3 separate regions of the Homo sapiens genome follow, and all the other regions are linked to region 2. The links come from fine-mapping of genetic effects on gene expression. A gene starts in region 2. Each other region holds a variant in brackets. All regions are shown on one strand. Distances are between the middles of the regions.

Region 1 (8,000 bases), 57 kb after region 2:
CAGATGTACTTCAAAGTTCAAAAAATGTTTTATTATTTTAGAAAGACAATGTGGTTTATATTCTATATACAACAAAATACCCTAGTAGGATCCAGGGAAGAATCCCATTCTCAAATATACTAATGTTTATACAGCAAATTATATAAATATTCACACCAAATATGATAAGATTTTACACGGACTCATGGCAACTCAAGTCCAGATTCACTGCCAAATTAGTTAGCTGCAAACCTATGAAAACAATACTGGTTATTAAAATATCTTTGAGGCCAGGTGTGGTGGCTCACGCCTATAATCCCAACACTTTGGGAGGCTGAGGGGCTGAGGCAGGTGGATCTTTTGAGCCCAGGAGTTCAAGACCAGCCTAGGCAACATGGCAAAACCCCATTTCTACCAAAAAATGCAAAAAATTAGCTGGGCATGGTGGTGGTGCATGCCTGTAGTCCCAGTGATGTGGGAGGCTGAGGTGGAAGGATCATTTGAGCCTGGAAGGTCAAGACTGCAGTGAGCCAAGATTGCACCACTGCCCTCCAGCTTGGCTGACAGAGTGAGACCCTGTCTCAAAAAAAAAAAAAAAAAAAAAAAAGTCATTGATTTTGCAATTAGGGCTAAAGGATTGTGGGTCTGTGCTCCATTTGATAGTAATCTCTTTCCCTTAGATGGGAAGAGACAGAAATGATCCTCATAGAATATTTATAGTCCAAATTCTGTCAACAGTGTAAGCAGTCATAAGATTTATAGATCTTTTAGTTAGATATTATTGATTTGGTTTTCCTTTACTTTCTAGCTCCTATGACTTCTAGAAGTACATCTACTTGGAGAATACCCAGCAGGAAGAGACGTAAGAGCAATTAAAAACTCTTGATGTAACAAATGTCTTTATTTGCTGCAAAAGCTACATTCACTTTTTATGTTATATCCTTTAAAATAAAAAATTAATTTGTTGGGATTTTAGATGATTTGCATTTTACATTTTCAATTAGATGAGTTGGGCTGGTATAAAACATAAGCCTCAAAATGTTCAAAGGCACAAGTGCAACATAAGTTTATTTTTCACTCACATAAATAGGATAAAGTAGTTCCTGAGTAGAGGGGGTGCCCACACAGTCATTCAGGGCCCAGCTGATGGGGGCTCTGACATCTTTAAGATGTTGCTTCCATGGTTCCCTTGGATAAGAAACTGAGATGGAAGCAGAAGTATGTGCAAACTAATAATGAAAGCCTAAGAAGCGTAAGAAACAACGTTGTCCTAGGATTGTATTCAGAAAAGATTGAACATTATGTATGTTCCTTTTATTTGATTATGCATGAATGAGATAGGAGAAAACGATGGAAGGATCCACACTGATCTGTTGACTTCACTAGCTGGGAGACCAGAGACAGAATAGGGTAGGAAAAGAGAGCTTTGGGGTTATATACATTTGCATTCATTGGTCTTCTTATGACAAGCATATATTGCTTTCTTAATTTGAAACCACCCAATGAAATGGATGATTTATAATAAATACATATTTTTCCCAAAGTTAAAAAAAAAAAAGAAGAAGAAACAATGTCATCCCCAGCCCCAGCCTCAGAGAGGGCTCCTGGAGCAATCTTGACCAACAGGTCAGATGATCAAAGCCAAAGGGTGGCCTAGTGGTGGGACTATTTCTCCCCCTCCTCCACAAGCTTCTCTTGTTCAGTTTTGCTTTTAAAGAATTCCCTGCTGATTCCTAAGACTCAGACTAAGACTGTTAAGGAATTTTATTTTTTTCTGCAGGTTTCAGCAGTAGTGACTTTTCAGACCTGAGTAATGGAGAAGAGCTTCAGGAAACCTGCAGCTCATCCCTAAGAAGAGGGTCAGGTAAAGAAGATTAGGATGCCAAGACTTGGCCTGCAGAATGTCAGGAATGTGAATTAAAAGCTGCTGTTTCCAGACGCTTTTTATTCTGAGCACCTTCACTACCTTGTATCCAGTTCATCTGGGAACTCCTTTTTGCATTTTAGAAAATGGAAAGAGGCAGGAAATTATGATAAACTCATGTTTAACAGAAAGAGTTTCACTGACTAAATGTATGTAATTATATTTTGTTGTTGTAGAAGAAATAAATAGCAAATTTGTGGTATTCTTTTTTTTAAACCTGCTCTCATTCCTATTAACACTAAGATCTTAGATTTTTATAGTGATAAATGGGTTGACATCATTGTCATTTGTAATTGTAAAGCCTCAAAAGACAACTGTTCCTACTATGTAATTATAGACAGAAATAAAAACTTCAGATCAAACACTCTCAAACGTTAGTATAGTTTTTGGTAGATGTCCTTCATCATGTAATTGGATTATATTGTGTTATTTCAATGTCTTTTGGCAAATAATATCTTATTTTGTCATCACAAAATTTTTAAGACATAGGCAGGCTAACTATACCCATTTTGGGGTGAGGAAATAGATGTACAGAAGTATTAGGGCCAAAAAACTAAAGAAACAATAGAAACTAGCAACCCAGGTGTCTCACGGTGGGTGACTGTTGTATGTAACAGACAGGAGGATAAGAGCTGTGTCATTTAAGTCAAAGTCCAAAGAAGATGCGCAAGGAACTCAGAATATTCACAGGAGACTATACCAGTGCCTGATGCAAGAAAGCTTATTTAACAACCACTGTGTGTGTGTGTGTGTGTACACATGCATATATTTGTTACATATAACATGTATACATACATAAACACACACATATGTGTGTGTATATATGTATATTGGTTAATACATATAATCTTTAGGGGGAGGGAAAAATAAAAATCGCAAACAGACAGAGATAATAGGAATGGAACCAGCTATATAATATACAAAATACCTAGAAAGACAGAAGCAAAATAGATAAACATAGAAATAAAGGAGAACAGAACATCATTGATGGAAACAGAAAAAGCAACACAGGAGACAAGATAAATCAAAGGGAGATGAGCTCACCGAATCAAAGAGACAGAGACAAAAATGTATAGCAGCAGGGCAATGGGCAGAAAAATGAGAAGTGAGAAGGAGAACGAAGTGTGGCCAGATAGAGTAGGGCTATGAGGTGTACTCATTGATATAGGTGTATTTTTTTGTCAGTCCGTTTAAGCTCTGAAAATAGTTCAGCATGACCACATTGAGACAGGTTCCCTGGTTTCCTCGTCACTGTCTATAGTCTATTATTTCCTTGTTTGTCTTCATTGTCCTGTGAATTTAGAGCTCCTCCAATGAATACACAAAGAGAGTCAGAAGAGATGCAGCCCATTAGCTTGTGATGGAGAAGCCGATTATGATGTTCAGTTCATTATTAATTATCTTTTTTTTCCTACTTGCATGGAGGAAAAGTTCTTTTTTCTTTTCCTTACCTCTCCCCCAAAACATATGCACACACACATACACACCACACACACAAAGACTTGTGCACAGACTCGGGCTGCTTGCGACAGGTTTGAGGGAGCGAAAAGAAAAAGAAGAGCTGGGCTCCTGAATGGAGGGAGGAGACACTGAGTGGATAAAGTAAGGAGAAAGAATGGAGAAAGGTAGGCTAGAGTCACCAAATGAAAAGATATAAGAGTCAGCTTCAAGTTTTTCTAAGTGGACAAGGAATTCAAATATTCCAGGTAGGGGAATTTTGTGGGGGAGGGAGGGATAATTTTCAACACACTTCTCAGAAATTGTACCAGAAACGTGAAAATAAAGTTGCTGATTGATTGACAGCCTTGCAAGGTAGAAAGCTCATAAAGAACAGACAAAGGTAATAGAGATGGCTATGTGGTCAGTGTCCTAACAGCAGGCATTTGGTGATGAAAGTAATAACCTGTGAGATAAAGATGAATATAGATGAAGAAAATGTGGATAAAGACAAAGATTGAAATTGCAAAAAGAGTCAAGATCAAGATAAGGGCCAGGCGCAGTGACTCATGCCTGTAATCCCAGCACTTTGGGAGGCCGAGGTGGGCGGATCACGAGGTCAGGAGATCAAGACCATCCTGGCTAAAACGGTGAAACCCCATCTCTACTAAAAACAAAAAAAATTAGCCAGGCATGGTGGCAGGCAGCTGTAGCTCCAGCTACTCAGGAGGCTGAGGCAGGAGAATGGCGTGAACCTTGGAGGCAGGTCTTGCAGTGAACCAAGATCGCACCACTGCACTCCAGCCTGGGCGATCGAGCAAGACTCCGTCT[C/CAAA]AAAAAAAAAAAAAAAAAAAAAAAAAGTCAAGACAAGATTCAGAGAAACAAGCTAGAAGAGAGAATAGAAGGAGGAAGTGATAGTAGAAAGAAGTTCACCTCAATAATAAAACTAGATCTAAAGATATAAACAGAAAAACAGGTGGAATGAGATACATTCAAAGGGTGATGAGTGGTGTAAAAAATTAGGTACAACAAGAAGTATGTAGAGAAAGAATTAAAAGATGAGAGAAAAATGGAGGCAAGAAGGGGGAAGTGTAAATGGGAGAGAAGAGAATGATGGAGAAATTGTAGGATCTGAAATGACCATGAGATAAAAGCAACTTTAGCACAAGGCATGATTCACAATAGCAGTAAGTTTTCAGAATAAGGTGTCCCCTGGCCCCTCTGACTCACCCAGATTAAAAAAGGCCTCACCCAGGCATTTCATCCACTCCTGTGATTTCAGTCACCACCCACAACCTCATGATTCCTACATGTGTATCTCCAGCCAGCCCTGTCTTCTAAACTCATTCATCCAAGTGTCAGAAGGCTCCTGTTGGAGATTCTGAAGGCCTTAGACTTCACCACTTGGATGTTACTCAAGACCTTCAAACTTAACACCTCCAAAACTGAGCACATCATCTTTTTCCCTAAAACCAGCCTTTGCTCCTCCAGTGTTCTTCATCACTGAAACAAACTATTAATTGACCCTTTATTTCAAGATGAAATTCTCAGGGTTATTTATGAACAGAAGGGAAAAATACAGTGAGGAACCACAAAAGAAAAAGAGATTTCAGATGTAGAGCCCATCCCTTAATTTAGCTGTGGGGAGTGGGCAGTCACTAATGTTGGGGGGAAGGAGAATCTTTGAAGGGGAGTGGGCACAAATAAAAATGTTTACAAATCACAATTTAGGATCACAGCCACAAGAACCTGAAAATAAGAAGTGCTCCTGTGTCATGTGTTTTCCAAAAGGTGTGCCAAGAAGCCAAGAAGCAAGGACTGAAAGTAGTCAAGCATCTGACATGATGGGTAAGGCTACCCTAGGGTCTTGGGATGGAAGTGGCTCAGTGGATATCACAGACACTGGGTAGGGATGTGGGAAGTGATCAGAGTTGAAGCAAAGCATGAAACAGCCTCTGGATCACCAACAGGAAGTGGGCCCACAGGCCCCAAGCTTCAGAATTTCAAAAGTCTGAAATCATAGTCCCGGTTTCCTGCTGCACTTGACTGTGAGCAGACTGTGACAAAGAACAGGTTTGGTGCCGCCAGAATCCTGTTCTCTACATTTGCTTAACCCGACCCTTTTGGGAACTGCAGGGAGGCAAGAGATCATTATAAAGCCATATTTAACAGAATGGGCTCTCTTGGTTAGGTGGTAAAAAAATACACTGGTAAACATAGTAGTATCTCACTATATTAGCATATCAATAGTAAAGTGTTGAATTTATAAAGCGAGTTCCATCCTTGTTCTTGAAAAAAAAAAAAAGAAAACATGTTCTTCCACTCACAGGTAATAGTGTCATTTTGTCACAACTTTGGAAAGGCCTAAAAAGACAAATAGTCCTGCTACCTGTCAGGAAAGAAAAATCAGATACCTACTCTTATGCTAAAAATACATTGTTTTGAAAGATATCCTCTGGACTGTTATTGATTTATATAGTGATTTCCTATTAACTCTTGCAAGTAAGATATTTAATATTCATAAAAATTTTAAAGCTGAACAGGATAACCGTTGCTGTCCCTGTTTCATAAATGAGGAAATTGGTGCATAAAAGTAATGAAGAGCTGTTTCAAAGTCTCAGAGAACTAGACGAAGACCTTAGACATCAATTCAGTGTCTGTTTCCTTTGGAAGGAAGACAGATAAATTATACTCAGAATATTGTTATAAACGCAAGCCTTCCATGCAGTGTGAATTGTCATAAGATTTATAAATTTTACTTATAAATTACAGTTCTCTGACCACTACCTGTCACTTTCTAGATACCATGGATGTTGAAAACAATTCTACTTTGGAAAAACACAGTGGGAAAAGAAGTAAGAACAAATAAGAATTTACTTAATTTTTATGTTACAAATGAACTATTTTTTAATGCTAAGGTTTATTATCATCATTTTCTTTTTTCAACTTTTATTATAGATTAAAGGGTGCATTTGCAGGTTTGTTACATGGGTAAATTGTGTGATGCTGAGGCTTGGTGTCCCAAAAATCCCATCACCCAGGCAGTAAGCATAGTACCCAACAGATGGTTCTTCAGCCCATGCCACCCTCTCCCCCTGCCCCATCTAGTGGTCCCCAGTGTCTCTTGTTCTCATCTTCACATTTATGTGTATTCGATGTTTAGCTTCCACTTGTAAGTAAGAACATGCAGTATTTGGTTTTCTGTTCTTGCATTAAGTTGCTTAGGATAATGGCCTCCGCTCCATCCATGTTGCTGCGAAGGGTGTGATTTCATTCTTTTTATGGCTGCATAGTATTTCATGGTGTATATGTGTGCCACATTTTCTTTATCCAATTCACTGTTGATGGGCAACTAGATTGGTTCCGTGTCTTTGCTTTTGTGAATAGCACTATAAGGAACATATGAGTGCGTGTATCTTTTTGATAGAACAAGTTATTTTCCTTTGGGTATATACCTAAAGGTAGTGGGATTGCTGGGTAGAATGGCATTTCTGTCTTTAAGTCTTTGAGGAATTGCCACACTGTCTTCCACAATGGTTGAACTAATTTTACCCTCCCACCAACAGTGTATGAGCATTCCTTTTCCTCCACAACCTCACCAGCATCTGTTATTTTCTTGACTTTTTAATAATAGCCACTCTGAGTAGTGTGAGATGGTATCTCACTGTGATTCTGATTTGCATTTATCTGATGATTAGTAATGTTGGGCATTTTTTTCATGTTTGTTGACCACTTGTATGTCTTCTTTTGAGAAGTGTCTGTTCATGTCCTTTGCCCATTTTTTAATTGGATTTTGTTTTTTGCTTGTTGATTTGTTTAAGTTCCTTGTAGATTCTGGATATCAGACCTTCGTTATATGCACAGTTTGCAAAAATTTTCTCCCATTCTGAAGGCTGTCTGTTTACTCTTTTGGTAATTTCTTTTGTTGTACAGAAGCTATTTAGTTTAACTGGGTCCCACTTGTCAGTTTTTGTTTGAGTTGCAATTGCTTTTGGAGACTTAGCCATAAATTCTTTGCCAAAGCCTATGTCAGGAAGGGTATTTCCTAGGTTTATTCTAGGATTTTTATAGTTTTAGGTCTTACATTTAAATCTTTAATCCATCTTGAGTTAATTTTTGTATAGGATGAGAAGTATGGGTCCAGTTTCGTTTTTCTTCGTATGTCTAGCCAGTTATTCCAGCATCATTTATTGAATAGACAGTCCATTTCCCATTGCTTATTTTTGTTGATTTTGTTGAAGATCAGATGGTTGTAAGTGAGCAGGTTTGTTTCTGAGTTCTCTGTTCTGTTCCACTGGTCTATGTGTCTGTTTTTGTACCAGTACCATGCCATTTTGATTACTGTAGCCTTATAGTATAGTTAGAAGTTGGGCAACGCGATGCCTCTAGCTTTGTTCTTTTTGTTTACAATTGCTTTGGCTATTCAGGCTCTTTTATGGTTCCAACTGAGTTTTAGAATAGATTTTTCTAATTCTGTGAAAAATGACGCTTTTATTTTAATAAGGATGGTGTTGAATCTATAAATTGATTTAAACAGTATAGTCATTCAAACTGTATTGATTCTTCCAATCCATGAGCATGGAATAATTTTCTATTTATTTGTGCTATCTCTGATTTCTTTCAGCAGTGTTTTGTACTTCTTCTTGTAGATATCTTTCACCTC
Region 2 (10,901 bases):
CAGCATTTGTACCCATGAGAAACAGGTGCACCAGTTAGGAGAAATGCACAGGGCTGTCCCACCAGTTCTGGAGTCATCCTTGGCCCTGGGAAGAGCTCATTAGACTTTATTTTGGATTTCCCCTAGAGCAGATGTTATGACTGACAGTCTAACAAGACCCACCTCATCCTCAAAACAGGGTCTTCTCAGCCCTTGCTAGGCAAAGGTGCCCTGGGAGAGCCCCCCAGTGCTCTGGTCAGCTGTCTCCCACCCACATTTCCAGGAGGAGCACCTGTGGAAAGGCAGACTCCACCCCTTCCCTGCACATCTCCGCCAGACAATGGTTGGCAGATGGGCATTGGCCTTTGCTGGAACTGTACCTCCTGTCTCATAACCTGTCTCGTAACCACTAAATCTTCATGAAGCTACACTTTCCAACCCTGCGCTTCCTTTATTCTGTTCAGCAATACTGAGGAACCTGCCAGGGACCCTCCTCTTCATAGAAGCACCCACTTGCAAGCCCAAAGAAGCAGAAGCTGCTGCCCAGCAGGTGCTGGTGGAGACCATCTGGAGGGGCCACCAGGTATCTCCTTCCCTCGCCACACATGCATCACCTGGCAGTCCTAAGATCTAGGACAGTCTGCGGGCCATTCCAGCTCACCATGGTAAAAGTAATAGACATATGGAGGTTTGCAGAAACATTAGGAGTGCAGACTTGGTAAAAGGCTGCATTGTTCATTCAAGCCTTTCCTGGCTCCAGCCCCAGCCACCAGGCTCCCTCCGCTCCTGGTGGTGTTCAGCCCTGCCTCCTTGGCACCCTGAGGCTCACAAGGAGACCCCAGGCCGACCACAGCTCGAAAGACATTCCTCCTCCTTTCTGAGGGTAGGTCTGACCCCGCAGCCTTAGTTCCATGCTTGTGGAGGCATCCAACATGGAGCTGCCTGGTTCCATATGTCAGGTGACAGCCCCAAGTCTAACGGGGACCCACTGGTGAACACAGGAAGGTGCCACCAGGAATCCCCAGAATGTGAAACATAGTGAGCCTGTAGGGTCGTTCTGTTGCAGTCCAGCAGTTGGGGCTCAAAGTGAAACGAAAGGGAAGGTGAAGCCCCCTCTCCCTCACTCAGGGAGACTGGGTTTCGGGGTGGGGGGCATTGACAAACTTCTGTGCATGAAACGCACTTCTCTGAAGTCTCGTGTCTTCTAATTCACTCCATGCCACCCGTTTTTGCCGTTTGCCCACTATTTTTTAATCCTTTCAACTGCTCAGCATCGAGTCATATCAGTGTGCCCCGCAAGGACAGCAGGAGTGTCCTGCAGGGCCTTAGGGTGCGGGGCAGGCTTAAGGGCTTCAGCCTCCGGGGAGGTGCAGAAGGCAGGGCGGCTTGTGGCTCCGGACGGAATGAAACTCTTAGGGAAGAGGACAGAGACCAGGAGGAGCGAAGGGCAGAGTCCCCCGCCCCTCACGGGCTGAACAGAGGGCAGGCGGCGACCCGGTGGTGCTCGTGAGCTGCCAGAGGGCAAAATGATCTCAGAACCCAGACCTTACATGGGTTCGACTTTATTTAGAAGGAACTACGGCTCTTCTACCACACAATTCGAAGTGTTTGGTGAGCTAGAATCCCGATAAGAGGAGGATTTTCGGTTTCTGTTTCTGCCCAGCCCTGAAGAGGCTGCAGCGCTACGCGCTGCCGGGAGACTGGGCGCCGGCCGGGCGGGGGCGGAGCCCGGAGGAGCGCGGGGCGGCCGCGGGAACGGGAACGCGGGAGGCGGACACGGGGGATGGCGATCACCGACCCCTGCTCGTTGCGCGTGCTCACGGTGTGTCCGTGGCGGGCCTCGCCGGCTAGGTGGCCTCGGAAAGGAGGCATGAGGTGGCGTCCATGGGCCACCAGGACCCTGTGCTGTCCGTCAGTTACCAGGGGACAGGGATCTGCGGATGTTCATCTGCGGATACAACAGGGGCTCAGCTGAAGGACCCTGCGTGATGATGCGGACTCAGGGGTGGCCCTGGGCCAGTCGGTTTCTTCCTGGTGCTGCACAAGGACTGAGGGCGTCCTCCGGATTTCTCATGAATGGTCCCCACCTTCAGAAGGTGGCCAGAGGGACTTCCTGTGTTGTCCAATGCTCCCCTTGTCTTTCTGACTCCCTACAATCCTTCACCCATAGCCTCTTTAGGCCAGTCACTGAGGCTCTGCTGAGCAGGGGACCCTGGTGAGTGGGCCAGGGAGGATCAGACCAGCCTGGTCTCACCCAACTTCCTAAAAGCTGAAATATTGCTACCAAATGCCCGCTGAGCCCGGGGGATAATTGCATCACAATCATGCAATTGCAAGGAGCTATGACCCCAGCCTCTACCCATCTGCGGCACAGATAGAAAAGAACCTCAGAAGAGAGATGTATACCCATGTGCTTGAACCCTTTGAAATATAGGCAAAATGGAGAGACAGACGGCGATCAAAATACCAGCTTTATTCCGGATAAAAGCTGGATTGGGGATGTGGCTTAGATATGTGGCAGTAAAGGGACCCCTAACACTGAACTCCAGAATTGGGCTTATCCGCATGGCCTCAGGCTGTTCCAACTCTCCCCCACGCTATGCAGGCCCCTGTCCTTGTGCACTTGAGCTTGGAGGAGCCAACAGAGTCTTGGTCTCTGCAGGCAGGATGACTCCAGGGACACCCAGCAAAGAGCAGGCTCACTCCCACTCCCAGTCAGAGAAGCGTCCCCTAGAAGATGGGCGGGGACCGGAAGGGACCGGGCCTTGACTGATTGATGTTCCACCTCCTAGAAGGAGACAGTTCGGCAGGACTGGGTGCTCCCACTAAAGATCCCAGGCGCCTGCCCTTCACTCGTCACTTCTACGTCCCTTGGAGGGTGGCCAGGTTCTCTATTCTCATGCCCCAGTGGCACTGTTCCTGTAGCTGCCTCCTGCCCTGAAACTCTCTGGTCCATGATGCCAATGACCTCATCTCAGGTACAGACCTCTGGTTCTCACATGGGGGTCCCAGGTTGAAGAATCACCCCCCACCATGTTACCAGTAGAGGGTCTTGACTGCAAGTTGTCCAGGTTCTTGGCGTTTTGAACAAAGAATTGGACAAAGCGCACAGCAAAGCAAGAAAAGAATGAAGCAACAAAAGAACGAAAGCAGGGATTTATTGAAAATAGAAGTACACTCCACAGTGTGGGAGCAGGCCCAAGCAGTATTCAACGGTCCCGCATACAGAATCTTCTCTGGTCCAAATACCCCCTGGAGGTTTCCCATTGACCACTTGGTGCTCACCTCATGTAAATGAAGTGGCGGCCTGCAATCAGTCTGATTGGTTGAGGAAAGCAACCAACCAGAGGCTGAAGTGAAGTTACAAAGGTCACACTCCTGTGCAAACATCTCATTGGTTGCAGAAAGCAACCAATCAGAGGCTAAAGTGAAATTACAAAGTTGTACTTCTATGCAAAGGAAGACTTGGCCTGCAATCAGTCTGATTGGTTGCAGACAGCAACCCATCAGAGGCTGAAGTAAAGTTACAAAGTTACACTCCTATGCAAAAAACAACTATACACAGGTACTTTCCATTTCCCATTGCCCCACAGAAAAGGTGGGGGTTTGCAAAGGGAGTAGCCTCTGGACCTTTTGTTACTTAGGCATGGAAAGTTAGGGTTTTCCTTTCAATTTAGTTCTAGGAAGTTAGCATGAAATGGCCTTAGGTTCCCTGCCTCCAGACCCTATTCTCCTGCCTCACCCACACCACTGAAGTCTGAACTGAAGCTGCTCTTGGTGAAATGTAAGAGGCCCATCATCTGGCTGGGTGCCCTGCCTGTGGTCCTTCCTCAATCACTGCCTCCCCTGCTTTTGAGTTTTCCAGGCTCCAGTAACTGGAACTACTTCTTGACAACAGAAATATTCCCTATTGCCTGTGCTCCTTGCAGCCATGGAAAATGCCCCAGGAGTTCCATTATTTCCTTCTAAACAGTCCAGCAGGATTTTTAGCTCACATGTCTTCTTAATGTGGTCCCGTCCCTTTCCCAACCCCAGTGTGTCTGACATTGTTTTCTGGATCAGAGAAACTTTGCTTTCTTCACAGAGGCCTACAGATTCTCCATATACCAGCGGAGCATGGTGCATGCTCATCTGTCTCCAACCTCATCTGATGAGAACATCTCCTTCCCTGCTGCCAGGAGGTGCCCCAGCATGGGCATGTCTGCCCGTGAAGTTCAACCCGTAAGGAATTCCCTGCCAGCCTGTGGCTCATTGGTCTGGAATTCCAGGTGCTGCTCTTAGTAGCCCCTAAGCACATCCAGGGAAAAGCTGGCACGTTTATGTCAGTGCCACTCAATGGCCTGAGCCTGCCTGCTGCCCAGAGGCAGCGAGAGGGGAGAACGTGAACCACACCAAAGCATACTGTGTGGTCCATGCCAGGACTTCTTGGGACCAATGTGCCTCATGGAGACTGGGATCAAAGGACAGCTGTGCCCAAAAGAGGCTCAGCTTACCAGCCCTTCAGCCCCATAAAGTCGGGGAGTCATGGGGGGTAGGAAGAATGAGAGAAAGAGAGAGAGACCTACAGGTGAGAGAAAGAGAGAGAGACCTACAGGTGTGCAGTGCCTGATAGAAACAGTGACCTTCGCCCACCGGCAAAGCTGTCCTCACCAATGTCCTGGTGCCTGGTCATTCACTCATGGGGAAAAGAAGAGCAGAAGTAGAGTGAGGGTAGAAAGCCCCTTCCCCCACATTTTCAAATGTACCTGGACAAGCATCCTTATTCACAGCTGGAAGAAGTTGGATTCAGTAGAATGCCATTTGGAAAACACCGTTCTGAAGTGCCATCCCCTCTGGCCCCTGAATCCTCACCAGCTTCCACCCTCTGCTCACCTTGGGCCCTGGATTCCAGCGCCCCCAGGCTCCCAGCTGCCTCCCTGTCTCTGCCCCATGGTCCGGCCTGGAGTTCTGGTCCCTGGTTGTGTCCTGTGGCCCCATTCTCATGCGCCCTTTGCTTCTGTTTCTTTACCTATGACTTTATACTGATGTAAAGCGAGTCTTCTCGGTCGCTTCTTGTTCTCTGAGGAATGATGAATCAGAATCTAAATGGAAAATCTGGGCAGAGATAGAACCTCCCGCGGGAGCCACCCTGCCCTTCCATGTCTAGATCATCTGGGTTCCAACCTCCATCCTCCTCCAATGAGAAGCTTTTGTTCTCTCAAGATTCCAGTGACTTCTCCGAAGCTTAGGTGTCTCTTCACCCCTGGCTGTTCCAAGGCGGCCCCATAGTCAAGATTCCTTAAACCCTTGCCCCTTAAAATGTTTGCCTTTCTTACCATGCTGGCTCCAGCCTCTGGTCCCAGGGGTGTGGAGAGTTCTCTCTTACTTCTGGCTGATTTCCAGGAAGGCTAAGCACACTCTCCCCAGGTTATAATGCTGAGCATTTTGGTTCTCTCCAGCCCTGGGTCCCAATGTCAGGACCTACCTTAGTCCAGTCCATGCTCTCCCATGGGCCTGAGAGAAGATTTGAGGTTTCTGGCTTTCCCTCCAACCCTCCAACTCCCACCCCAAGCCATGTCAGCAAGGGGAAGGGGCAAACATGGAGTTTCCCCCCCAACTCCCATGTAAACTATGCCCCCTCTTAGAGGGCAGAGCAGCTAAGGACAATTTTGTTTCAAGGACATTTTTTTTGGCTGTGTATTGCACAAACAAGTGGACACCCGGGAGCTGGCCCTGCTCGTCCCCTGGGCCCTCCTTCCCTGGTCCTGCAGGTCTTGCTGCTTGTCAGGCCTCTCCTCCAACCCTCTGCCACATTTCAGAAAAGCTGAGAATCCCTTGGAGTGAAAAAGGAGGAGAAACACAGTGTCCGTAGCCCAGAAGGAGGTTAAATACTTTCACTTCTCTTTTCCCCATTTGGGCGGAGCCCTTTCTGAGTCAGTCTGTCGGCCGACTTCCTGCTTGGGGCCTGGGCAGCCACACTGCACGCAGGCTGGGCCGACTGAGGGGCTCAGAGGCCAGGCTCTGAGGCCCACGCAGGGCCTAGGGTGGGAAGATGGCAGGTGGGGGCGGCGACCTGAGCACCAGGTGAGTCTTTATCTCCCTTCCTTTAACCTTTATCTCTGGCTATATTGCAGCTTTCATGCCTTTAGTTCAGTTTGTGCCTAAGGCTTCACTTTAATCCTTCTTTGCAAGAACATAGGTATGCGATGTTATATAATGAAATGAAAGACAAGTAATGAGGAAATCAGATTTTTTAAACAGGAGCAGGACAGCTGTTGGTGTGAGTTCAACTTGCCATAACACACGTGACTTTCTTGTTTTGGATTTACTGCTCAGCTGACCGGGACACTCTAAACATAGCAGTTGTTGGTGGCTGGGATTAACTATTTCCTCATGATCTGTGAACCCTTTCACCCCTCAGCCTTCCTCTACCTTCAAATATGTCATGTCAAAAAAGGTGCTTTAGAAAATAAACACTCCAGGGTAAACACCTGGCTTACTTTTAAACATCAGACGCTGTGGTCTCACCTGTCCTGGCAAGGGGCCTCTGCCGGCTGTTCCCATGACTGGCTCAGGGTCTGAGTTCTTATTCCATCAACCTTGATCAAAAGAAGGAAAGGGAAGAAAAAGGCCCAGGGTGACAAACGGCTAAATATTTTCATTTTTACCTCAATTTCCTGTCCCAAGATGGGGGATACCTCTGACCAGAAAAGAGAAGGAAATCCTAACTTTTCTCTAGTAGTGAGTTGAGAAATAACATTACTTAATCTTTTAAATTTTTTAATACAAAAGAAATACACTGTACATTATTGTTCATAAAATTTAAAACAGTGGAGAAGTATATTAAGGAAAAAGTCATCTTTGCCACTCAGCCATTCTTGTAGCTTCTCTTCCCAGTCCTGTGAAGAGTCTTGGGCACAGCTTTTCTTATATTTTTCTATGCATTTATATATCTAATGCATTTTTTGTAAATACGTAATTTATGTTCTTGATTTATAATAAATTATATTACATGTGCTAGTCTGCATTTTGCATTTTTACTTATTTTAATAGTGGAAAACTTAGAGATCTTTTAACCTTAATACATATAGATCTGCCTCATTCTTTTTATACATGCTATTCCATAGAATTGATATATGATAATTATTTATTCTCCAATTGAAGGACATTTAGATTGTTTTTAAATTGTTCACATTTACCAATAAGCTATCATAACAATGATTATATATTTCTTTTTGGGTTTTTACATCTAAACAAATATTTATCTTGTCTCTAAACCTTAAAAATGTAATTATTGAGGCAAAGGGTCCAGTTATTTACTTGGTCCTGCCAAATTGTCTTTCTAGGAGGCTGAATGAATGTATTTCACCAGTAGCAAATGAGATGAACCATCTTCCTGCACACAGCCACGATTTGCAAAGGTGATGAATGAAGAGTTATGTCTTGTTTTAATTTGTATTTTCCTTACGATGGGAAAATTGATCAGCTTTTCATGTTTCTTGGCCATTTAAATTCCCTCTTCTATAAATTGCTTGTTTGTTTTTTGCCAATATGATTCCGTTGAGGTGTTTGTCCTTTTTTTCGTGATATGGGAGAATTCACTAAATATTCTGTAAGTATAAATATACTTTTCTTGTCCATTACCTTTGTCTATGGTGACTTTTATCTTATTAAAGCTTAAAACTTAACATATAGGCCTCTTGTGATACAGATTTTTTTAAGATAGATGCACCCTTGTTATAAACGAGGTGATGCTGACACCCTCTGTGAGCACTCTTAGTTTTTACAATTATTTCTGTGTTAAGGTGGCAGATTCGCTGCTACCGCTATTCCAGGAAGAGTTCCTCCTCTAATATCTCTGAAAATTTTTTAAATTTTTAAACAAAAATATTCTTACATTGGAGCCACTTTAGCCTTCACAGCTTTTATTTGCCCCGTTTTCATCTTTTCAGTCTTTCACTTTGTGTTCATAATAGTTGTCTCAAACTTTTCCTCCATGACAATTATTTACCTTCTAGTAGGTTTCTTGTTTCTTGTCATTTCTAATTTTTTAAAAATTGATAGTGTTTATTTTTGAGGAGGGATCTTAATTGGTTTCTGTACGCCTGCAAGCTCCATAACCTCTTGTCATTCAGTCTTCACAGTCTTGCTTTATTTAGGTTTGCCTGTGCTGTTAAGAACTTTGGGATATTCTCCTTGTTGTCTCTTAGTTATTTTTCCAGACTGATTCTGTCTGATCTTGTGTTCCACGTGCCTGTGGTGGCTTTACAGCTCCTCTAGCCAGGCTTGGCCAGGGCAGGTCACCCCAAACTTCCCGTTTGCTTAGTCATAATCTGGATGAACTTTTTTTCTTTTTTTTTTTAACATTCCCTGTTTTATCTGAGATCAAATTGTTTTTTGTCTGAGCTACAGTTTGAAGTCTTTGTTTTGATTCTTATCAATTTTTCTGAGTTCACCGTTGATTGATTAAATTATCCTTTTCCCTGCTGATTCGCAGTGCTACCCTTTTTGGGAGTATAGAGGCAGGGTGTGCTTCTGTGTTCTCTCTTCTCTCCCCTTGGCCGGTGACAGCCCCTCCTTATGCCAGTACCACGCTGCCATAGTGATGGCAGCTTCCCAGGAACTCTTGACATCTGAGGGAGCAAATCTCTTCCTCTTCCTCCAGAATGTCTTAGACTCCCAAATTTGCCTGTCAAAATCTCGAGATTTTGTGTGGAACTGCACTGGATCTATAAATCAATTTGAAGAGAATGGACATCTTTACATTCACGAGACTTCCATCTCATGAATATGGTTTATGTATATTATTACTTTAAAAATGTCTCCTATTAAAATTTGTATTTTTCTCTCTGAAGGTTTTGCCCTTCTGCTAGATTCCTTCATAGATATTTGATATTTTTATGCCATTATTAACTAAAGTAGTCCTCCCTTATCAACAGTTTTACTTTCTGAGATTTCAGTTACTTGCAGTAAAACTTGGTCCAAAAACATTAAATGCAAAATTCCAGAAAACAATTCATGAGTTTTAAGATACTTGGCGTTCTGAGGAGTGTGATGAAATCTCATGCTGTCCCTCTCCATCCTGCCCAGGATGTGAACCATCCCTTTATCCAGGGTATCCACAGTGTAGACACTACCAGCCCATGAGTCGCTGAGTAGCTGTCCTGGTGATCAGATCGACTGTCCTGGTATAACAGAGCTTGTGTTCAAGGAACCCTTATTTTAGTCAATAATGGCCCCAAAGCACAAGAAGGTTGATGCTGGCAATTCAGATATGCCAAAGAGAAGCCGTCAAGGGCTTCCTTTAGGTGAAAATGTGAAATTTCCTGAAAGAAAAAAATAATATGCTGAGGTTGTTAATATCTACAGTATGATGTTTTGAGAGACAAAAAGAGACCACATTTACATAATTTTTATTACACTACATTGTTATAGTTGATCTACTTTATTATTAGATATTGTTATTCATCTTTTATTGTGCCTAATTTATGTACAGATTGGGGAAAACATAGTATATGCAGAGTTTGGTACTATCTGCGGTTTCAAGCATCCACTGGGGTTCTTGGAAGCATCCCCTGTGGATAGAAGGGAACTAGTGTGCTAAATTTTACATATGAATTTGCGTTGGTGACCCATGATCTGATCCATGGTTCTATTTTCATTCTTGTTTCAATACTGAAATGTTTTAGTTACTATGATTTTATAGGTAGTGTTCTGTAACCTACCTTACTGGGATTGAATTGAGAGACACTAAATGAACAGATAAATTTAGGAAGAATTTATGTTTTAAAAAAATCCTGAATGGCCCCAGTGAGAAACATAGTAAATCTCTCCATTTATTCATGATTGTTTGAACTTGGGACCTTGTTGGGTCGCTTTAGTTCTAGGCATTTTAAAATTGTATTTGTAAACAGGAATTCATTTTCCTTTTACATTTTCTAGTTATTTCTTGCTGGCATAAGGGAAATCTATTCATTTTAGTTAGCTGATCTTGTGCATAGGAGTCTTACTAAGTGGTCTTCTCCCTCTTAATATTGTCTTGTGTTTTTCTGGAGAAATAATTACATCTTCAAAGATAGTAGCAGCTTTGTCTCCTCTTTTTCAGAATTTATACCTGTATACTTTTCTTTTTCTTTCTTTTTTCTTTCTCTTTTGCCTTAGCGCATTAGCCAGGACTGCCAGTGTAATACTGAATAGTAACAGTAAAAATGAACATTTTAGTTTTATTCCTGATTTCAAGGGGAATACTTATAATGTTTAAATTGAGGCTTTCTTATAGACACCTTTTTTCAAGTTAAGGACATTTCCTGCTGGCTCTGGTTTACTAAAAGTTATTTATTTTAATCAGGCCTGTGTATAGGATATTTATCAAAATGCCTACTAAAGAATCTTTGAGAATTGTATCATTTTTCTCTTTTAATCTGATTTATCCACAGTAAATTATATTGAAACATTTTATTAATTCGGTTATTAATTTCACCAAAGTAAAACATATATATATATATAGCTTAAAGTATCAGTCAATAAGACCTTTAAAAACACAAGTAGTACTTTCTGCCATCTTCCCAGCCCATGTCCAGTTTCCCTAATGGATTAACTTTTTGGCTCTTACTTTTGTATTTACTTCTGTATTTTGAAATGATGTGCTGATACAGCTCTTTGTAATTTTTCAAGTTTCAGACATTAATCTGTTCACATAATAGGACAGAAGATGAAGACTTTTTCCATAACACTCCTTTTCATTCCCTGTCCATTCTCATAATACATCACAGTTGGAGGTTCATCAGTAATCAGTGTTACCATTATGATGACTATTTACATGTTGTTCATAACCAAGTCATCTACTATATTATGATTACATTTCCTTTCCTGTGCAACATCCTCCCGCCCCTCCCCGCCGACCCCACAAATAACTATTGCCCTCTTATATATTTGCTTGGATT
Region 3 (8,000 bases), 41 kb after region 2:
TGCGTTTGTATCCTGCCACTTTACTGAATTTGTTTATTAGTTCTAGCAGTTTTTTTTTTTTTTTTTTTGGTGGAGTCTTCGGGATTTTGTATATATAAGATCAGGTCATCTGCAAATAAGGACAATTTAAAACTTCTTCCTTTCCAATTTGAATGCCTTTTATTTCTTTTGCCTGCCTAATTGTTCTGGCTAGGACTTGCAGTAACATGTTGAATAGAAGTGAGAATGGGCAATCTGTATTGGTCCATCCTCACACTGCTAATAAAAGACTGGATAATTTATAAAGGAAAGGGGTTTAATTGACTCAAGAGTTCAGCATGGCTGGAGAGGCCTCAGGAAACTTACGATCATGGCAGAAAAGGGGAAGCAAACACGTCCTTCTTTACATGGCAGCAGCAAGGAGAAGTACAGTGCAAAGGGGGGACAAGTTCCTTATAAAACCATCAGATCTTGTGAGAACTCACTCACTGTTGTGAGAACAGCATTGAGGTAACTGCCCCCATGACTCAATTACCTCCCACTAAGTCCTTCCCATGACATGTGGGGGTTATGGGAACTACAATTCAAGATGAGTTTGGGTGGGGACACAGCAAGACCATATCAGCATCCTACTCTTGTTTCTAACCTTAGAGGGAAATCTTTCAGTTTTTTGTCATTAAGTATGGTACTAGCTGTGGGCTTGTCATGTATGGCCACTATTGTCCTGAGATACATTTCTTCTATATCTATTTTGCTGAGAGTTTTTATCATGAAAAAATGTTGAATTTTGTCAAATGCTTTTCCTACATCTATTGAGATGATCATATGGTTTTTGTCCTTCATTCTATTAATGTGGTGTATGACCCTTTAGATATGTATATGTTAAACCATTCTTGCATCCCAGTGATAAATCTTATTTGATCATGGTGTTTAATGTGCTACTGAATTTGATAGTATTTTATTGAGGATTTTTCATATACGTTTATCAAGGATAGTGGCCTATAATTTTCTTTTCTTGTAGTGTTCATGTCTAGCTTTGGTATCAGGGTAATGCTGGCTTCATAAAATGAGTTTGGAAGTAGTCCCTCTTATTCAATTTTTAAGAAGAGTTTGAAAAAGATTGCTATTTGTTCCTTAAATATTTGGTAGAATTCAACAGTGAAACCATCTGGTCCTGAACTTTTGTTTGGTGGGTGGTATTTTATTATGGATTAAATCTTACTCATTATTGGTCTGTTCAGATTTTCCTGTTTCTTTGTTATTCAGTCTTGGTAGGCTGTGTGTGTTTAGGAATTTATCCATTTCTTCTAGGTTATCCAATTTGTTGGCATTAAATTGTTTATAGCAGTGTCTTATGATTCTTTGTATATATGTGGTATGAGAAAGGTAGTGTCTCCTCTTTCATTTCTGATTTTATTCATTTGAGTGTTTTCTCTTTTTTCTTAGTCTAGCTAAAGCTTTCTCAATTTTGTTTATTTTTTCAAAAAGCCAGTGCTTTGTTTTGTTGATCTCATTTTTTTCTAGTTTTGAACTCATTTATTTCTGATCTGATATTTATTGTTTCCTTCTTTCTGCTAATTTTTGCCTTAGTTTTTCTTCTTTGTCTGGTTTCTTGAGGTGTAACATTAGGTTGTTTGAGATCTTTCTTCTTTCTTTATGTATTCTTGTGTTTATTGCTATAAACTTCCCCTCTTGTAACTGCTTTTGCTATATCCCATAAGTTTTGATATGTTACATTTCTATCTTCATTTGTCTCAAGATTTAAAAAATTTTTTCCCTTTAATTTCTTCATTGACCCATTGGTTATTTGGGAGTGTACTTAATTTCCATGTATTTGCAAATTTTTCAAAATTCCTCGTTATTGATTTCTAATTTCATATCATTGTGGTCAGAAAGTATATCTGATATAACTTCAGCCTTCTTTACTTTGTTAAAACTTGTTTTGTAGCCTAACATATGATGTATCCTGTAGAATGTCTCATGTACAATTGAGAAGAATGGTACTTTTCTGCTTGTAGATAAAATATTCTATATATGCCTTTTAGGTCCTCTTGGTCTAAAGTATAGTTTAAGTTTGATGTGTTCTTATTGATTTTCTCCCTGGACAATCTGTCCACTGCTGAAGGTAGGGTGTTGAAGTCCCCTAGTATTATTGTATTAGTCTCTCTTTCCTTCAGATCTATTAATATTTGTTTTATATATTTAGTTGCTCAAATATTGGGTGCATATGTTTACAATTGTTATATCATCTTGATAAGTTGACTCCTTCATCATTACATAATGACCTTCTTATTTTCTTTCTTTCTTTTTGTTTCTTTTGTTTTTTGTTTTAGTTTTTGTTTTGGAGACAGGGTCTTGCTCTGTCACCCAGACTGGAGTGCACTAGTGCAATCATGGCTCGCTGCAGCCTCAACCTCCTGGGCTCAGGCAATCCCCCCAAGTAGCTGAGATGACAGGCATGTACCATCACATCTGACTAATTTTTTTTAGTTATTTATAGAGACAGGATTGCCTTATGTTGCCCAGGCAGGTCTCAAACTTCTGGGCTCAAGCAATACTTTCACCTCAGCCTCCCAAAGTGTTGGGATTACAGATGTAAGCCACCATGCCTGGTTTTATCATGACCTTTTTTGCCTTGTTTTATATTATTTGATTCAAACTGTATCTCATCTGACGTAAGTACACCTGTGCTTTCTTTCTTTCATTTCCATTTGCATGAAATATCTTTTTCTATCTTTTCACTTTCAGTCTATGTGTTTCCTTAAAAGTGAAGTGAGTGTCTTGCAAGCCACATATACTTGGTTCATGATTTTTAAATTCATTCAGCCACTCTATGTCTTTTGATTGGAGAATTTAATTTATTTACACTTAATATAATTACTGATAGGTAAGTACTTTCTAAAACCATTTTGTTTATTGTTTTCTGGTTGTCTGTAGATTCTTTATTCCTTTCTTTCTCTCTTACTGTCTTCCTTTGTGATTAGGTGATTTTCTCTAGTGATACACTTTGATTCCTCTTTATCTTTTGTGTAATCACTGTAAGTTTTTGCTTTGTGGTTAACATGAAGTTTACACAAAACATCTTATAACAGGCTATTTTAAGCTGATAACAACTTAATTTTGATTGCCTACAAAAACTGCACTTTTACTTTGCTCCCTCATTTAAAATGTTTGATGTCAGAGTTTACAAGTTTTATATAGTGTATACTCTAAAAAATTATTGTAGCTACTATTTTTTGACTATATATTTACTTTACCAGTTAGTTTTATACTTTCTTATATTTTTATATTATTAGTTAGCATTTACTTCTTTCAGCTTGAGCATTTCTTGTAAGACAGGTCTGGTGGTAATGAATGTATTCATCTTTTGTTTTCCCGGGACGGTCTTTATCTCTCCTTTATTTCTGAAAGACAGCTTTGCCAAGAAAAGTATTCTTGGTTGTCAGGTTTCTTTTTCTTCCTTTGGCACTTTGAATGTTTCATCTCATTCTCTCCTTATCTGTAAGGTTTGTGCTAAAAAGTCCACTGTTGTCCTTATTAAAACTCCCTCATATGTTAGTTGCTTCTTTTCTTTTGTTGCTTTCAGGATTCTCTCTTTGTCCTTGAATCTTGACAGCTTGATTATAGTATGTTTTGGTGTAGTCGTGTTTGCACTGAATCTGATTGGAGACCATTGACCTTCTTGTACCTGGAAATTTATGTCTTTCACCAGATTGGCAAAGCTTTATACTATTATCTCTTTAAATTAACTTTCTACTTTTGTCTTTCTCTTCCCTTTTATGAATTCCTGTGATTCAAATATTTGCTCTTTTGGTGTGTTTCATAAATCCTGTAAGCTTTCTTCATGACTTTTCATTCTCTTTTCTTTTTCTTCTCTGATTGTATTTCAAATAACCTGTCTTTGAGTTCATATTCTTTCTTCTGCATGATCAATTCTGCTGTTGATGCTCTCTGATGCCTTTTTAAATTTCATTCATTGTATTTTTCAGCTCCAGAATTTGTTTGATTTTTTAAATAATTTCAATATCTCTGTTAAACTTTCTCATTTTGGTCATTTATTGTCTCCCTAATTTTAGTGAATTGTTTCCTATATTTTCTTAAGGTTTGCTGAGATTCCTTAAAACAATTATTTTGAATTCTGCATAAGGCAGTTTGTTATCTCCATTACTTTGGGGTCTGCTATGGGGAGATTATTGTGTTCTTTTGGTCATGTTGTGTCTCTTTGGTTTTTATGTTTCTTGTTGCCTTACATTTATGTCTGTACATTTGAGAAAGTAGAAACTATTCTAGTCTTTGCAGGCTGACTTTGTCTGGGAAAGCCTTTCACCCTATTTAAAGATTCTAAGATGGCCATCTGGCATGGTACAAGGGCAGGCTTGCTGCTAGAGTCCTCAAGCAGGCTAGTCTGGTGCCTAGGACAACCAGTGGGCAGGTCTGTGCTGGGGGAAACCTTGAGCCAGAATCTGCAGGGCTCTACACCACTGATGCAGGCTTCTTCAGGCACTTCAGTAGGCATGAAGCCCAGTGCTATTGAAGCCAGCTTGCTGCTAGGATGGGCCTCAAGCCCAGTGCCACTTGGTCCAGTTTGGCACTCGGTCTGGTCTGGATCATGGGTTCACTGAGGCTGAAATAGTGCTGTAGGAGGCTGAAGACTGAGTTCGCAGGGCTGGCCTGAGTCCTGGGGCTGCAGGATTTAGGTTGGGGTCAGAGTGAGCTTGGAGGTTCAGACCATGGGTACTGGCTAGAGTCTGGGGCTTTGGGAGCTGGGTTTTACTGAAGTCGGTTCTGTGGTTTGGGTGTAAGGCAAAGTCTGGTGCTCACTTCCTTCTCCTTTCCCCAAGCATA[T/C]TGTATCTTGCTCAATGCTGTGCTTCCTGGAGTTGGGGAAGATGACACAGTGAAACTTTTCTTCCTGCCCTTTTCAATGTGCTCTTTCTTATTTCTGTGTTTCACTCAGGTGCTGTGATCTTTCATCTGGTTTCCTCAGCTCTTGCAAAGGTATTTTCATGCATAGGTCGTTGTTCACATCAGTGTTTCTGCAGGGGATGGAGGGCTGGAGAGTCCTATTCTCCCATCTTGCTCTACTTCTCCCCAATTTTCTAATTATATCTTTATTTTTCTATAAGGGCAAAACTTCCCTTTGTTTTCTCATACTAACTGCCTACACTCATCCAAGACACACAGACTTTGTTCACAGCCTCTGGCTGCTTTTAACAGGTATGAGATGGAAGGGAAAAAGAGAGTGAGTCTTTTTAACAGAGGGACTGTCCCTGGTTAGAGAATGCAAGAAGAAAGAATACAAAAGAGGTCAACTAGGGAATATTAAATAACAAAACACAGTTGACCCCTGGACACTGTGGGAGGTTAGGGGTACCAATGCCCCATGCAGTCAAACATTTGCACATAACTTTTACATTCCCCAAAACTTAACAACTGCTGTTGACCAGAAGCCTTACTGATAACATAAACAGATGATAACACATATTTTCCATACGTATTATGTGCTGTATTCTCACAATGAAGTAAGATCTCCAAAGGAAAATGTTATTAATACAATCATAAGGAAGAGAAAATATATTTACTATTCATTAAGTGGCAATAGGTAATCATAAAGACCTTCATCCTCATCATTGAGTAGTTTGAGAAGGAGGAAGGAGAGGAGGGGTTGGCCTTGCTGTCTGAGGGGTGGCAGAGGTGGAAGAAAATCTGCATACAAGTGGACTCATGTAGTTCAAGCCCCTGTTGTTGAAGGGTCAACTGTGTATGAGTGAGACAGATTTTAGATAAAGTGACATGGTATCCATACATTGTCATGTTGTGGAGTTGTTGAATAGAAATATGTTGCAAGTTACTTTTCAGAAGTTATCATGAAAACGTAGAAATTATGCATGATGCTGCTTGTCAGATTTGCAAAGGAAGGAAGCCCAGGTGAAAGACCTTCAGGAAGGAATGGCAAGTGGAGGGCCTCTGGTGTGGTAGACAATGGCACTGGAAGAGACCTTTCGTAATGATGGGAATGTTTGAGATGAGGAAGATATAGAAAGACAAAAAGTGATATAGCACTCACACATCAGATGCGAAAGTATTTTTGAAAAAAAAGTGACATAGAAGAAGCTTGCAGAGGTAACGTTAATAATTAAGAAATAAGGGCCGACTCAAAGCAGGTAGGAAATGTAACAGAGATGCAACATTACATATGGGACAACAGGCCTGGCACGAGGTGAGGCAGGGAGGCCCCCAGGGCACAGCATGTAAGGAGACCTCACTTGGCATGTGAGACTGAGCTTCCTTAAATTTCAAGGCACCCCATAGCACCACCTTCACCTCACCCTGGTTCTGTCTCTAAGAGACAATAATTTTTAAAAAGTGTAGATAAAAAGACTATGAATAGAAAAAACATAGAGGGAAATAAATACCAAGAAATAGGAAAAATGGAGGGAGGCACAAAGAGAAGTATGCAGAAAATGAGTTAAAGGACAATGAATGAAAAATTGGTAGAGAGTGGATCATGCAAAGAAGGGAAGAGAGAAGACAAATCAAGACATTCTCTGATCTGAGGAGATAAGAGCTAGAAAGGAGGCACAGGGTGTCCTATTACTATGGAGAAAGATCAGCTGCCCTCTTATCAAAATGGCCCCTGTGACTCCACCTCCACCCCCAGATTACAATAAGCCTCTCCTCAGGCATCACTTCCTCTCCATGGCTCAATCACCATCTAAGATCTGTTGATTTCTAAACATACATCTCCAGCTCAGACCTGTCCTGTTGACTCCCTTCCCCAATTGCCTGAAGACCTTTATTTAAAGACCTGAAGAACATCTCTCTTTGGAAGCTGCATCTGTCATCTATTGCTGTGTCATGTAACAAACTATCCTGAAACTTAGTGGCTTAAAACAATCATCATTTCATTTGCCACTTGTGTCAATCCCAACTTTAAAATATCTCTAACTTGTCCATTTCTCTTCATCCCCAGCACGAACACCCTAATCTAGACCCCTGTCACTCTCACTAAAATTAGAGGAACAGTCTCCTGTCTGGCCCCCAGTCTTGCTCCTCTCAAGTCTGCACTTCAGTTGAATGGACTTTTCCAAAATAGAAACCAGTTGATATGACTTTCCTGTTTGAAACCCAGTGCCTTCGTGTGGCCCTTAGCAGTAGATCAACACTGCTTGGAGTGGTGAATTGAAGGATGTCTACCACGCACCTGCGCGTTCCCCGTCACCCACCTCTCGCCCTTTCATGCCACATTCCCACCACACTAAGCTTCCTTTACTTACTGGAATTTGCCAAGCTCTCTTTCTTTCATCTCTGCCTTTATATATGCTTTTGGGAAAACAGTTTGGGGTAATCTTCCAAAGGTGAAAATATACATACCCTATAACCCAACAATTATATTCCTCAGCAGAAACCAACAGAAATGTGTGTTATGTCACCAAAACACATAGAAAAGAATGCTCAAGGCAGCATTATTCATAGAAGCCAAATGCTTGAAATTGTACAAATGAATAAATAATTCATGGCTTATTTCTATAATGGAATACTATCTAGTAGTGAAAATAATTATACAAAACGAATACAGATGACTTTCACAAGCATGTTGAGTAAAATATCCATACAATTTTGGGGGATTTGGCTTCTTTTGGGAGATCTATATATATTGAGAGAGAGGTAAAGGGAGAAAGAAAGAGTGGAGAGAAAAGAGATTATTCCATTTTTATAAATTACACAACAAGCAAAATTAACCTTAGTGTTGGAAACCTCAATGGTAGTTGTCTTTGAGCAAGTTAGTGGAAACAGTTAATGGGAAGTGTCACCAGGAGGTGTCTGGGGTATTGGTAATCTGTTTCTTTTTTTTTTTTTTTTTTTTTTTTTTTTTTTTTTTTTTTTTTGAGACGGAGTCTCGCTCTGTCGCCCAGGCCGGACTGCGGACTGCAGTGGCGCAATCTCGGCTCACTGCAAGCTCCGCTTCCCGGGTTCACGCCATTCTCCTGCCTCAGCCTCCCGAGTAGCTGGGACTACAGGCG

Alleles and levels. Positions count from the first base shown, and alleles are read on the strand shown. Sizes are in standard deviations (SD) of each study's normalised expression. Not every link is listed here.
In carriers of allele CAAA in region 1, the expression in monocytes after LPS of the gene that starts at base 5,915 in region 2 tends to be lower than with C alone (large effect, 1.0 SD a copy in Fairfax 2014).

Evidence for each region.
Region 1: its variant is fine-mapped to the expression of SP100 in monocytes after LPS (Fairfax 2014, PIP 0.95).
Region 3: its variant is fine-mapped to the expression of SP100 in whole blood (TOPMed, PIP above 0.99).

What each region holds. Positions count from the first base shown.
Region 1 is chr2:230,468,256-230,476,255 of GRCh38, forward strand. SP100 (SP100 nuclear antigen) reads left to right here. Exons shown (of 29, transcript NM_001080391.2): 14 at 788-841; 15 at 1,760-1,843; 16 at 5,069-5,185; 17 at 6,139-6,192. All of the region lies in intron 3 of LOC101928816 (a long non-coding RNA gene), which reads right to left. Among named protein-coding and RNA genes, the nearest start is that of SP100, 56 kb to the left of the region's middle. The variant C/CAAA (reference allele first, on the strand shown) is at 4,172.
Region 2 is chr2:230,410,287-230,421,187 of GRCh38, forward strand. SP100 (SP100 nuclear antigen) reads left to right here and starts at 5,915. Exons shown (of 29, transcript NM_001080391.2): 1 at 5,915-6,042; 2 at 7,305-7,379. The coding sequence starts at 6,011. RefSeq lists enhancers at 1,470-1,559, 2,220-2,269, 5,562-6,081 and a silencer at 1,650-1,919.
Region 3 is chr2:230,452,770-230,460,769 of GRCh38, forward strand. All of the region lies in intron 8 of SP100 (SP100 nuclear antigen), which reads left to right. All of the region lies in intron 3 of LOC101928816 (a long non-coding RNA gene), which reads right to left. Among named protein-coding and RNA genes, the nearest start is that of SP100, 41 kb to the left of the region's middle. The variant T/C (reference allele first, on the strand shown) is at 4,825.